Linked DNA regions of Homo sapiens: region 1 is linked to region 2. The links come from fine-mapping of genetic effects on gene expression. A gene starts in region 2. The other region holds a variant in brackets. All regions are shown on one strand. Distances are from middle to middle. Region 1 overlaps ZNF536 (zinc finger protein 536). Region 2 holds the start of ZNF536 (zinc finger protein 536).

Evidence for each region. PIP is the estimated chance that this variant, and not a neighbour inherited with it, causes the effect.
Region 1: its variant is fine-mapped to the expression of ZNF536 in lung (TOPMed, PIP 0.97).

What each region holds. Positions count from the first base shown.
Region 1 is chr19:30,476,714-30,482,095 of GRCh38, forward strand. All of the region lies in intron 2 of ZNF536 (zinc finger protein 536), which reads left to right. Among named protein-coding and RNA genes, the nearest start is that of ZNF536, 110 kb to the left of the region's middle. The variant G/C (reference allele first, on the strand shown) is at 2,737.
Region 2 is chr19:30,369,289-30,374,670 of GRCh38, forward strand. It overlaps ZNF536 (zinc finger protein 536), which reads left to right and starts at 3,096. Exons shown (of 5, transcript NM_014717.3): 1 at 3,096-3,268. RefSeq lists an enhancer at 4,140-4,641.

The sequences.
Region 1 (5,382 bases), 110 kb after region 2:
AAACAGGTCCATTTTAGTGGCTCCTCAAGCCCGCCTCCCAGAGCAGAGGGATGAATGCTTAGAGGCCCTAGTGGCTCCCCATGTGATTTGCGAACTTCTCCGGTCTCACTGGGCCTGCCTGCCTCTTGGACTCCAGGGCCTGTGGCTCTGTGGCACCCACTACTCTCCTGCTCTTTCTGTCACTCCTCAGAATGCTCCAGTGTGGTCCTGCCTTGGGGCCTTTGCACTTCCTATACTTGCTGGGTTTTTTTTTTTAATAGAGATGGGGTCTTGCTATGTTGTCCAGGCTGTACTGAAACTCCTGGCCTCAAATGATCCTTCTGCCTTGGCCTCCCAAACTACTGGGATTACAGGCATGAGCCATGGTAACTAGCCTATATTTTCTTTGTTAAGGTCCACTTGTCTTTACTTTTCCCTGACCACCCATCCAATGTCAAAGCTCATCTTGGTTGTGCCCTTATTCTGTCTGTCCCGAATCATGACATCACCCTTATGTATTTAACTATTTGGTATTCTTTTATTTCCATTGTACTGACACGTTCTCCATCTCCCCACTAGAATGCAGGTTCTATGAGGGCAGGAATGGTGTCTGTTTTGTCCAGTTAGGTAGCCCAGGGCCTAGAGTAGCTCATGATACAGGAATGATATACATTCTTCATGATATTCATACACAGCAGTAAGTACTGATGGACCCAGTGTGTTGAATGAATTTCTGCGGAGTCGTATGACATGCATGCATTTTATGAAACAGCAACCTCCCAAGACATGAAAAAAATATGCTTGAGGTTTCTTTCAAATGAATCTCCCTTTAAGCAGAAATTTCTGCTTTGTGGCGTGAAGAAAGCAGAGTATTCCAGCAGTGGTTGGTTCCTTCTACTTTTTAGACAACCCAGTAATTTGTTTGGAGTGTTGTTGGGTCAGGGGGTTCTCACTGACAGGGGCTGTGTCTGTCCCCTCTGGAAACTGAAATCTCCTCCACTGTGCTTTGCTGAAGACAGCAGTGGCTGGGCACAATGATGGCAAACTCTTGAGCTTATCAGAAGAATAAAAGGACTTAAGTGAAGTGGAGATTTCTTGGTAGTTATCACCTTCTAGAATAAAAAGAAAACCTGATTCTTTCCTTCATCTCAGGGGATCCTCTATTGTTATAAGTGACCTCGGTGAGGGAAGAGAGTTTTCTTACTCTACAGAAATAAAAATCTGTCTGCTTTCTCTAGCACTGAAGAAAAATAGTCCTTTTTTCCTTTTTCTTTTTAGAAAAGCACCTTGCAGCTTCTGATGATTGAGGACGGGGTGGGATCCTCCATTGCCCAACCCCTTAGCTCCACCACTCTGCAGACCTCGGCGTCCTTGAAGGAGCTCGGGAACAGAGATCAGCATGTGTGGGTCAGGCTGCTGATGGCTCACATTTAAGAAAGATGGTTCATGGATAATCCTTGGTGTTTTTTTTTTTTTTTTTCCAGGATAAAGTTTTATGTTTGACCCTGAGAACCAGATATTAAGAAATATATGCTATGAAGTCATTTTGGCTGATTTAATCTAAACTTCCTGTATGCTCTTAGGCAGAGGTTTCAAGGTTGGGAGGGTCTTACGATCTAACTCTGCCCCACGCGGGGTTGAGGAATGCTGTGGGGCTCCGCCAGCTTCTATTTGTATAAGTCCGGGGTAGGGGGCTTCCTGCTGTCTCTTGAGGGGGCCCATTCAGAGCCTGAGGAGCTCTGATCTTAGAAAGCCTTTCAGATGGGGGGATCCTAGTGAAGCTCATGGGTTTTGGGCTCAGTCAGGCATGGTCTGAGTCTCAGCTCTGTACACATAAACTGCTGGATCCCCAGCCAAGTCTGATCCCTTATGTGTATACCGGGGAATAATAGTACTTACCTTAGATGACTATTGTGAGAATTAAATGATGATTATCTTCCTTCTAAACAACAGCAGAGCACATAGCAGGCACTCAGTAAATGCTCTCTCTCTTTTTAATATTGCCCTGAAATGTGCATGGTCCCAGGATTCCTTGGGGTCCTGTAAGTCGAACTGGATTCTCCCAAGGCCAAGGGACAAAATGTGGTATAGCTTCGAGTCTTGAGCCTTGTCTGCTTTTCTTATTCTGTGCCCATCTGAACCAATGCACTTAGTGCACAGGACCTGCTGGGTTGACCAACGATGCATCATCTGTGTAGGCTCAGAGGGGCTCCCTCTCCTTTTGGAAACTCATCCTTCCGAGGCCATTTTTGCCTGTCTGGGGACCACGGATTCTCTGGTTCCCACTGAGTTACTCATCACTGTCCAATCCCTCAAGTCCTTTCTCAGAGGCCTGGTGAAGCCCTGCCCTCTCCCCAGTCCTGCATTGCCACTCTGGGATTGTGTATCCCATATCAGTTAGGACAACACTGACCGCTCTTATAAATACACCCTAACATCTCAGTATCAAGACACCACAGTTTACTTTTCTCTCTCTCATCCGGAGCTCAATCGGTGTTGGGCACAAGCAGCTTTTATTTAGGGACCAGGCCAGTGGAAGCCTCATCATTTTCAGTATACAGTTTCCTGGGTCACCCAGGACATTGAGATCCAGCTGTCAGGAAAAGAGAGCACCATGAGAATGGAGCAAGAGACTCTTCTAAGAAGTAGCAGCCTTCATTTTGTCCAAATTCCACCGGCTGAAAGTCAGTCACGTGGCCCCAGCTAAATCAGATAAGCCTGGAAAATATCTGCGGTTGGGAAACTGCTTCCAGCAAC[G/C]ACCCTAGGTCGTGGAAGGAGACAGGAATTGCTAGTTGGCTGCTGTTTCGACTACAGACCAGATGTGGAAAAGGTCAACAACTGTTTGTTTAATTGCATCACTCATTTTCCCCTTGGCCTGGTGGGTCAGGGTGCTGTGAGGGATTCCTTCATTCAGGGGCCCTCACGCACACCCCACTTCCCCAGCACTGGCCACCTGCGCTTGTTCCATTCATGCCTGTTGGGTTTTTGTCCCTGTCACTGATAAAAAGCAGTCCACGAGGCAGCCTCGGGACATGTGCCCTGCCACATCCCAGGGTGAGAGTCCCTCCCTTCCTTGTGACCTCAGCACTTGTTTCTGTACCCTTTGGGTATGGCTGGTTAACCAGCCACTGATCCACTTCTTTGCCTTGCTTCAGTTTCACATTTCTCTTTTTTATCTCCGTGGAAATCAAAATGCCCTGCTGAGATGCAGACACCTGATGTCTAATGCAGGTCTCGGTCCCCAGCCTTCAGGGCTGGTTCCAAGGGAGCCCGCGCTGGGCTCTGGGGATTGCTGTTCCCCCTTCTAGGCTTGCCTCAACTTTTGTGAAAAAGTAAGACCCATGCTGAAGTCAGTCTCAGGATCGATTGTCCATGACAATTAGCTTTCCCTTTCTCCACAGTTCCTCAGATATCACAGCAGCAGGTTTCAGCACTGCTTTCCCAAGCTCTCCCGGTTCCATGGTGCCAATTTCACGGGAGTGTGGAGATGAGGATTCTGCTGGAGCAGACATGTTCTTCCTGACAGTCTTTGTCATCCATCTCAGGCTCCCGTGGGTCAACAGGTCTCTCTTCCTTCCCCGGGACCTCTCCTTGCAGGGCAGACAGAACAATCCCTTCTCCTCTTCTCCTTCCCCAACGTGATGTCATTGCTTCCTGCACCAAACTATAGTTCCTTTCTCAGTCTGTTTGTTTTGCTCTGAATTGAACTTTTAAAAAGGGTTTTTTACCATCATTCTCAGCAAACTAATACAGGAACAGAAAACCAAACACCGGATGTTCTCACTCATAAGTGGGAGTTGAACAATGAGAACACATGGACACAGGGAGGGGAACATCACACACCGGGGCCTGTCGTGGGGTAGGGGGCAAGGGGAGGGAGAGCGTTAGGACAAATACCTAATGCATGCAGGGCTTAAAACCTAGATGACGGATTGATAGGTGCAGCAAACCACCATGGCACATGTATACCTATGTAACAAACCTGCACGTTCTGCACATGTATCCCAGAACTTAAAGTAAAATAAAAATAAATAAATAAATAAATAATAAATGGCTTTTTAGCCTGGGCACAGTGGCTCATGCCTGTAATCCCACCACTTTGGGAGGCCGAGGCAGGCAGATCACCTAAGGTCAGAAGTTCAAGACCAGCCTGGCCAACATGGCGAAACACCATCTCTACCAAAACTACAAAAATTAGCTGGGCATGGTGGATGCGGCTGTAATTCCAGATACTTGGGAGGCTGAGGCAGGAGAGTCGCCCGGGAGGCGGAGGCTGCAGTGAGCCGAGTTCATGTCACTGGACTCCAGCCTGGGCAACAGAGTTAGACCCTGTCTCAAAAAAAAAAAAAAAAGGGTGGGTTGGGGGGCTTTTTAGCTGCCCTTAATACTATATTTTTTCTTTCCTTGGCTTTCATTAAAGATAAGATCATTTCAAGTCCCAGTCACTTATGTCTGAGGTTCCCTAAGAACATGTTCCTTCTTGTTTCCATGTTTTATTCAAATCATCAATCAATTAATCTATTCACTTAACACATCTATGCATATGTGCATGTGTGTGTATACATGTACTTGTATGTACATACATGCGCATGAGTATGCTAGATGCCCACTATCGTCTTTTCAAATCTCATCTCTCTGGGGGAGTCACACTGGTTTTTCTGGACCCAGGCTTCTTCCCTGTCACTGGGATCTCTCTGGTTGCACAGTCGGCATTATGACACGTTTGAGAGCATCCTCATCTTTTTCTGGGTCATTTGCTTGACCAGCCTCTCGTGTCCTGGAATCCTACCTCTCTTTTCTGCAAGTATTTTGAACCCTGGTATGTTAAAATTTAGGATACACATTGGTTCGTGATGAATTACAAACATTTATTGAGTTTTTAAAAAATGCCAGGCAGTGTGCTAACTTATTAAATGGATTTAATCCTTGTAACAACTTTTTAGAATTGAGTTCTTTTTAAAAATTTTGTTGATTGATTTATTTTCATTTTTTATTTCTATAGTTTTTGGGGAACGGGTGGCTTTTGGTAACATGGGTAAGTTGTTTAGTGGTGATTTCTGAAATTGTGGTGCACCCATCACCCCAGCAGTGTACACTGTATCCAATATGTAGTCTTTTATCCCTCACCCCTCCCGCCCTCACCACCTCCCCAAAGTCCATCGTATCATTCTTACACCTTTGCCTCCTCATAACTTAGCTCCCACTGATAAGTGACAATATACGATATTTGGTTTTCCATTCCTGAGTTACTTCCCATAGAATAATGGCCTCCAACTTCATCCAAGTTGTTGCAAAAGACATTTGTTCCTTTTGATGACTGAGTAGTATTCCATGGTGTATATGTACCACATTACCTTTATACTTTCGTTGATCAGTGGGTACTTAGGTTGATTCCATATCTTT
Region 2 (5,382 bases):
AATATGTCCAAATGGTGGAAACATGTATTTGGTTTGATGATACTATTTCTGCCCACTCAAGGATTTTGATCTCTTATTTATAAATGTAACACTTTTCTGAAAACCAGAATGGTAGCACAGGGCTCGGATTTTCTTTTTGCAAATGAAACATGAATGCATTAAATGTGGAGGATCACACTGAAGCTGTGTCAATTGAGTCCGACCCGTCTGCGATTGTGCAGTCTAGATGTTGCTGTCACTGTCCCGGGGTGTGGTTTTTGACTGGCTGTTGCTTTGACCTGGCAAATAAAAATTGTAAAGGAAAAGACAAAATTCTTCCACAAATTGCAAAGGGATGAATTATGACATTATTTTCTCCCTGTACCATAAGATAAGCAGGTTCTCCTCTGAAAATACATGTGTGCATAATTGAATATTGTTAACCTGGGTCTGTTCTGTAATTCTTGAGCAATTTTTTTTTAGAAGGAAACCAACTCAGGAGTTTCTTCAGTGGCTGCAATCAGAATAAAGTGTTTCCACTTTTAGATTAAGAGAAAAAAAAACAGTAATAGGCTGGGCTGTTATTATGGAAAGTTTATTATTATTGGTACATAAGCTAGCTGGGGGTTTAAGCACAGAGCAGTTGGATAATTTAGCTAGCTCCTGGATCCAATTAAAAAAAATATATGTTGTGTCCACAGTGGGGGGATGGCCATCGCTGAGAAAGCACTCTAACGTGGATGGTGACACACCTGTGGCATTCTCTTGGTTATACGCAGTTTGGGATGCAGAATGCTGTAAATCCTCTCATTACTGCCTTAGAGAAGGCAGACACTTCAAACAGTTCTCCATTTATCTGAGATTACCAGTTAAACTCGTTAAAAAGCAACTATGGCTTGTTCACTCAATTGGCTGTTGGGAAGATTTCTGTGTTCTGTAGCAATGGCGACAGCGTGGCTTTGATTAGTGGAGTGCTATACTTTTTAGGGGAGACCTTTTCTAACTTAATTTATGACTCTGGTTGAATGGCGTCTGTGCTGGGGTATTACGTATTTCCCCAACTATTGTACCTGATGTCAATAAAGGTGCATTTAGGGAAATTTGAACTAAAACCCCAGGGTGTTTTTGTTCTTTGGGGAACCAATGCGCCATAAACATTTTGAACTTGAGCCAACAACCTCCCCTGACCATGATTGCAAATTACTGTAGAATGTATGGATTGCTGGCGGAACACTATTTGAGGAAACCTGTATTTTATAGAATGTCACTTTTATGCACAATCCAGGCAAAACAGAGGGGAAAAAAACTAATTTAAACAGCAGACAGTGTTCTCTTGAATGAAGATTATGACAAAGAATGTTATAAAAATCAAGCTCTAAATATGGCTTTTTATTTAATCATTATTACATCAATCATCAATATCAATACTTAACAGCAAGCTGATAATGTAGCCAGTAGGTGAAACAGCTATTAAAAAGTGTAAAAAAATGATTAATCAGGTACGGGGGATATTAATGCCCTCCAATTATTAAATGATAAGTACGTATTTTTGGAAGTGTTTGTTTTTAATAATCAACTGTAATATTAGTTTGCAAAAACGTAATTGCTTCTTAATTTTGCATTTTAGCTTCTTTGTGCTGGGTACAAAGGTAGTATGTTTCTGTAGTTATTGTTTGCAGCACTCCGTGTAAAAAATCACGTTCATTTCAAGAAGCTGTTATGGTATTGATTGTGGTAAAGACTTCCATTAACTGACCAATCTAAATCTCATAAGTGATGTCAGGATAGTTATGCATTTGCTTGGTTCAAGTATTCAGCCATTATGTTAGAATGCAGGCAGTGTCTGAATATGGCTGTTAAATTATTTCTAAATACCGAACCAGAACAGCTTAACAGTTCTGCAGTTTGAGACTGACACAAAAATGACAATCTGCCACCTCTTTGTTTTTTAAATATTAACGCTGTATTGGGATAGTATTTTTGGAGTAAAAACCTGTGGCACGAGAGGATAAGTGACATAAACAAAGGCAGCTGGGCTTCATGAAATAATGGAACAATAAGGCCTTTGCAGCCGCTCTCATCACTCCAGTATGTTAATTAGCATTCTGTTGTGGCCGCAACACTGAAAACATGTAATCTGTATTGGTGTACAGTACAGCTGTGAACACACATTCTTTTTTGTGAGTCCCTGGAGTTAGCCTTGCCATTGGCATATGCGTTTGGGCCAAAAGTCAAGCCATCACCACTAAAATAGCACACCATAGCAGCAAAATGTCATTTGTCTTTTCTTGTTTTTTTTTTTTTGTTTTTTTTTTCTCTCCCCTCAATGCCACATGCTATCCAGTGATGTAATCTAGTATCACTGCATCTGCCTCCCTGCTGTATTTTTGCAGGAGGGTATCTGGATATCTGTAGGGGAAAGGAGGGGGCATTGCCAGCCAGCAGGAGATGGAAAAGGCAGCGGCCCCAAAAGAGTCAAATTAGAAAATAAATTATTTCTTTTTGCATTATATGTTTAAATGCATATATAGAGAATATATATATATATATGCATATATATGTGTGTGTGTATATATATAAAGAGAGAATATATATACATTGAAGAATCTATGCATTTAATATCTGCCACCTTTTTGCATAGATTCTTCCTTAAGTGTCATGAAACTAGAATCCGCTGCTTGTTTTCGTAAGGTAAAAGAAGGGCAGTTAATTTCAGCACCAAGGCTTGGAGGAAATGAGACCTAAGAAAAAAGAATCAGAGTAAAATTTACCCTTATTTATCATTTCTATTTAGAACTGGGTTGACAGTCTTTCATGCATGTACTTAGGATGGGATTGGCTCTTCCCATTTCAGAGCTGACAAAACTGAGGCTGAGGCATGGTCCAAAGATGGGCCCTAATTGCAGGGCCTTTCTGGCCTCTGTACAGAGAGAGTGAAAACAATTGGTCATTTTGAGGGAAAGGGGTTAGCACCAGTGAGCAGAGGCAGTTAGTAGCTGGGAGCAGTGACTCCAGCCTTCAGAGGCAGGACTCAGAAAGGCCTCTCTTGTGTGATTTTGCTGCTCACACGTGGCCTGCTGGGAGCCGCCCCTGGTACTGCCGGGACACGGCCCTGGGATTTTGCTGAGGCCAGCTTTGGAACAGGGGAGGTGAGTCTGGAGAAGAGAGTTTCCACGTTGTCATCATAGGATCTGGACTCAAGTGACCAAAACCTTGCTTGGATTTTTACCTGATGAAGTTTGTCTTGAAAAGTGAAAATGGTTCCATTTCCATTTTCCCTGTTCTCAAGGTAATTCAGCTTTCTTTGTGTGTGAGTGTGTGAGTGTGTGCAAGTGTGTGTGCGTGCAGTCTCCCCAGCATAGAACACCCACACATGCACCCACCCACATGCAGACACGCACATACTCATGCATGGATTCTTGTTCACGAAGTACACACCCTTTTGCAAAATAATTTTTGAATAAAAAATTATAGCCCTTTAAATTTATTATAATTTAGAAAGGGACCATCCGATGGTTAAAACTTTTCCTATAATTCCTACATTAATTCTCTCCATCACCCGCCCCCCCCATCTAATCTGACTGTACCAAAAGATTTGAAAACAAAGCAAAAACACCAACCAACCAAACAAAACAACCCACCTGCTTCTAAAGTAACTTTCAGACTCCCTGGGCAAAGATTCTTGTCTCTTTCTGAAAGATGAGCATGAATTCTGAGCTCCAAATTTTGCTTTTAATCTGTCTCCAACCTAATTGAAAAATTACCATACCACACAAAGAAAACTCCGCATCGGGATCACCATGCTGATCCAATTGGGTTCTGCTTTTTGACGTTAGAGAAATCAAATTGTCTGGCGATTTGGTGACATGCTTGAATGTCCACCTGGGAGAAGACTAGGTTAAAAGTTAATAGCACTTGTGCTTTTCTTCCCCCCGACCTTTTTTTAAACTCCAGTAGAACGGAACTCTTCCCCACTGGCCAGGCCCTCATCCTGAATCCCTTGTCCAGCCTGGAGGTCTTCTGAGAGTTCTCAGTTGGCACCTTTCCCCTGACTTGTCCCTGTGAGGTAAGGCAGGGCTGACACTGAGATTTTAGTTCTGTTGTTCTTTTTTTTTTCCTAGAAATTCACACCCCCCACCCCTTGGTTAATGGCTCTTTAAATATTGAAATGCCTGGAAAAACAAAACAAAATAAAATAAAATGCAGCCTGTCAAAGAAATAAGAACAACAACAACAAAAATGTTGGTATCTTTTAGAATGTGTCTTCCTAGTGGTAAAAGTATATAATTAATAGGAGAATTTTCCTCCAGATGTGGCTATACTATAATAGAGCCTTATAAATGCTACAGAAAGAAAAATTGCTTGGAACGAAGGCGTCCTCAATGAGAGCACACCTGGGTCTGACAAAGATTGCATTTAGGGACTGCTGTGCTATCACAACGCAGAGAAAGACCAAGTCTCTGGGAGCAGCTGGAGAGAAAGCCCCGGCAAATCTGCATGCAAATAGCAGCACATTGTTAACTTAATCAGATGCCGAGGAAAGATGTGCCAGAATTCCAGGATGATCTACACACACGGAGGAGGAGCGGCCTGAGCTGCAGTGGGAGCCGGGGCCAAGGTGGGCCTCAGCAAGGTGCACGCGGCCCGGCCCCAGCCCCAGGGCCGCAGCCCACCCGCCGCCCGCCTGTTTTCCGGGCCTGCAGTCAATTCACCACATAATGCCCGATTCGCTCTTTGCAAAGATAGAAACGATAGAGCGTATTTCAATGGGATGGAAGCTTTATTATTATTATTTTTTAATGGTGATATAGGTATGGGCATTATTTCGCCTGAGTCCGTAACTCCAATTAAATAATATTTCTGCTTAAATATCCGGGTGCATGAAGATAAGAAATATTGCCCTGGAGTGTATAAAGAAAGAGTTTTTTTTTCAATAAGAAAAGTAGTTCTCTATAGGTTGAAGTGCTGGGTATAAATTGCACCTTAAGAAGAAGTGGAAGACACCTGTTATTTATATTTTATATTAATATTAATGGAAATATATATATCTTAAATCTCCATCTTTTAGTCTAGCACCGTAAAAAATATAAAGTAATACTATTTAATCACCCACAGCTTAATAGTGCCTTAGTTGTTTACTGCCATTGCACTAATTGCTCTGTACTAATGTGTTTTTCTGTGATATCCAGTAGTGCTAAGAGAACAGAGATCCATAACCAATTAAATATAGTGTTTTTTTTTAATGTTAAAAATATATCTGGTGAGGCTAGAAAAGGAATAGAAACCGCCCTGAAGAAAGGCGCCTTGGCACCGCCTCGGTGCCCACCAGAAGGTGCCCGGATTGCCTCTTTTGCGCAAAGACAAAGGGGGTAATTTTTTGGCAAGAAAACAAACCCAAGGAAA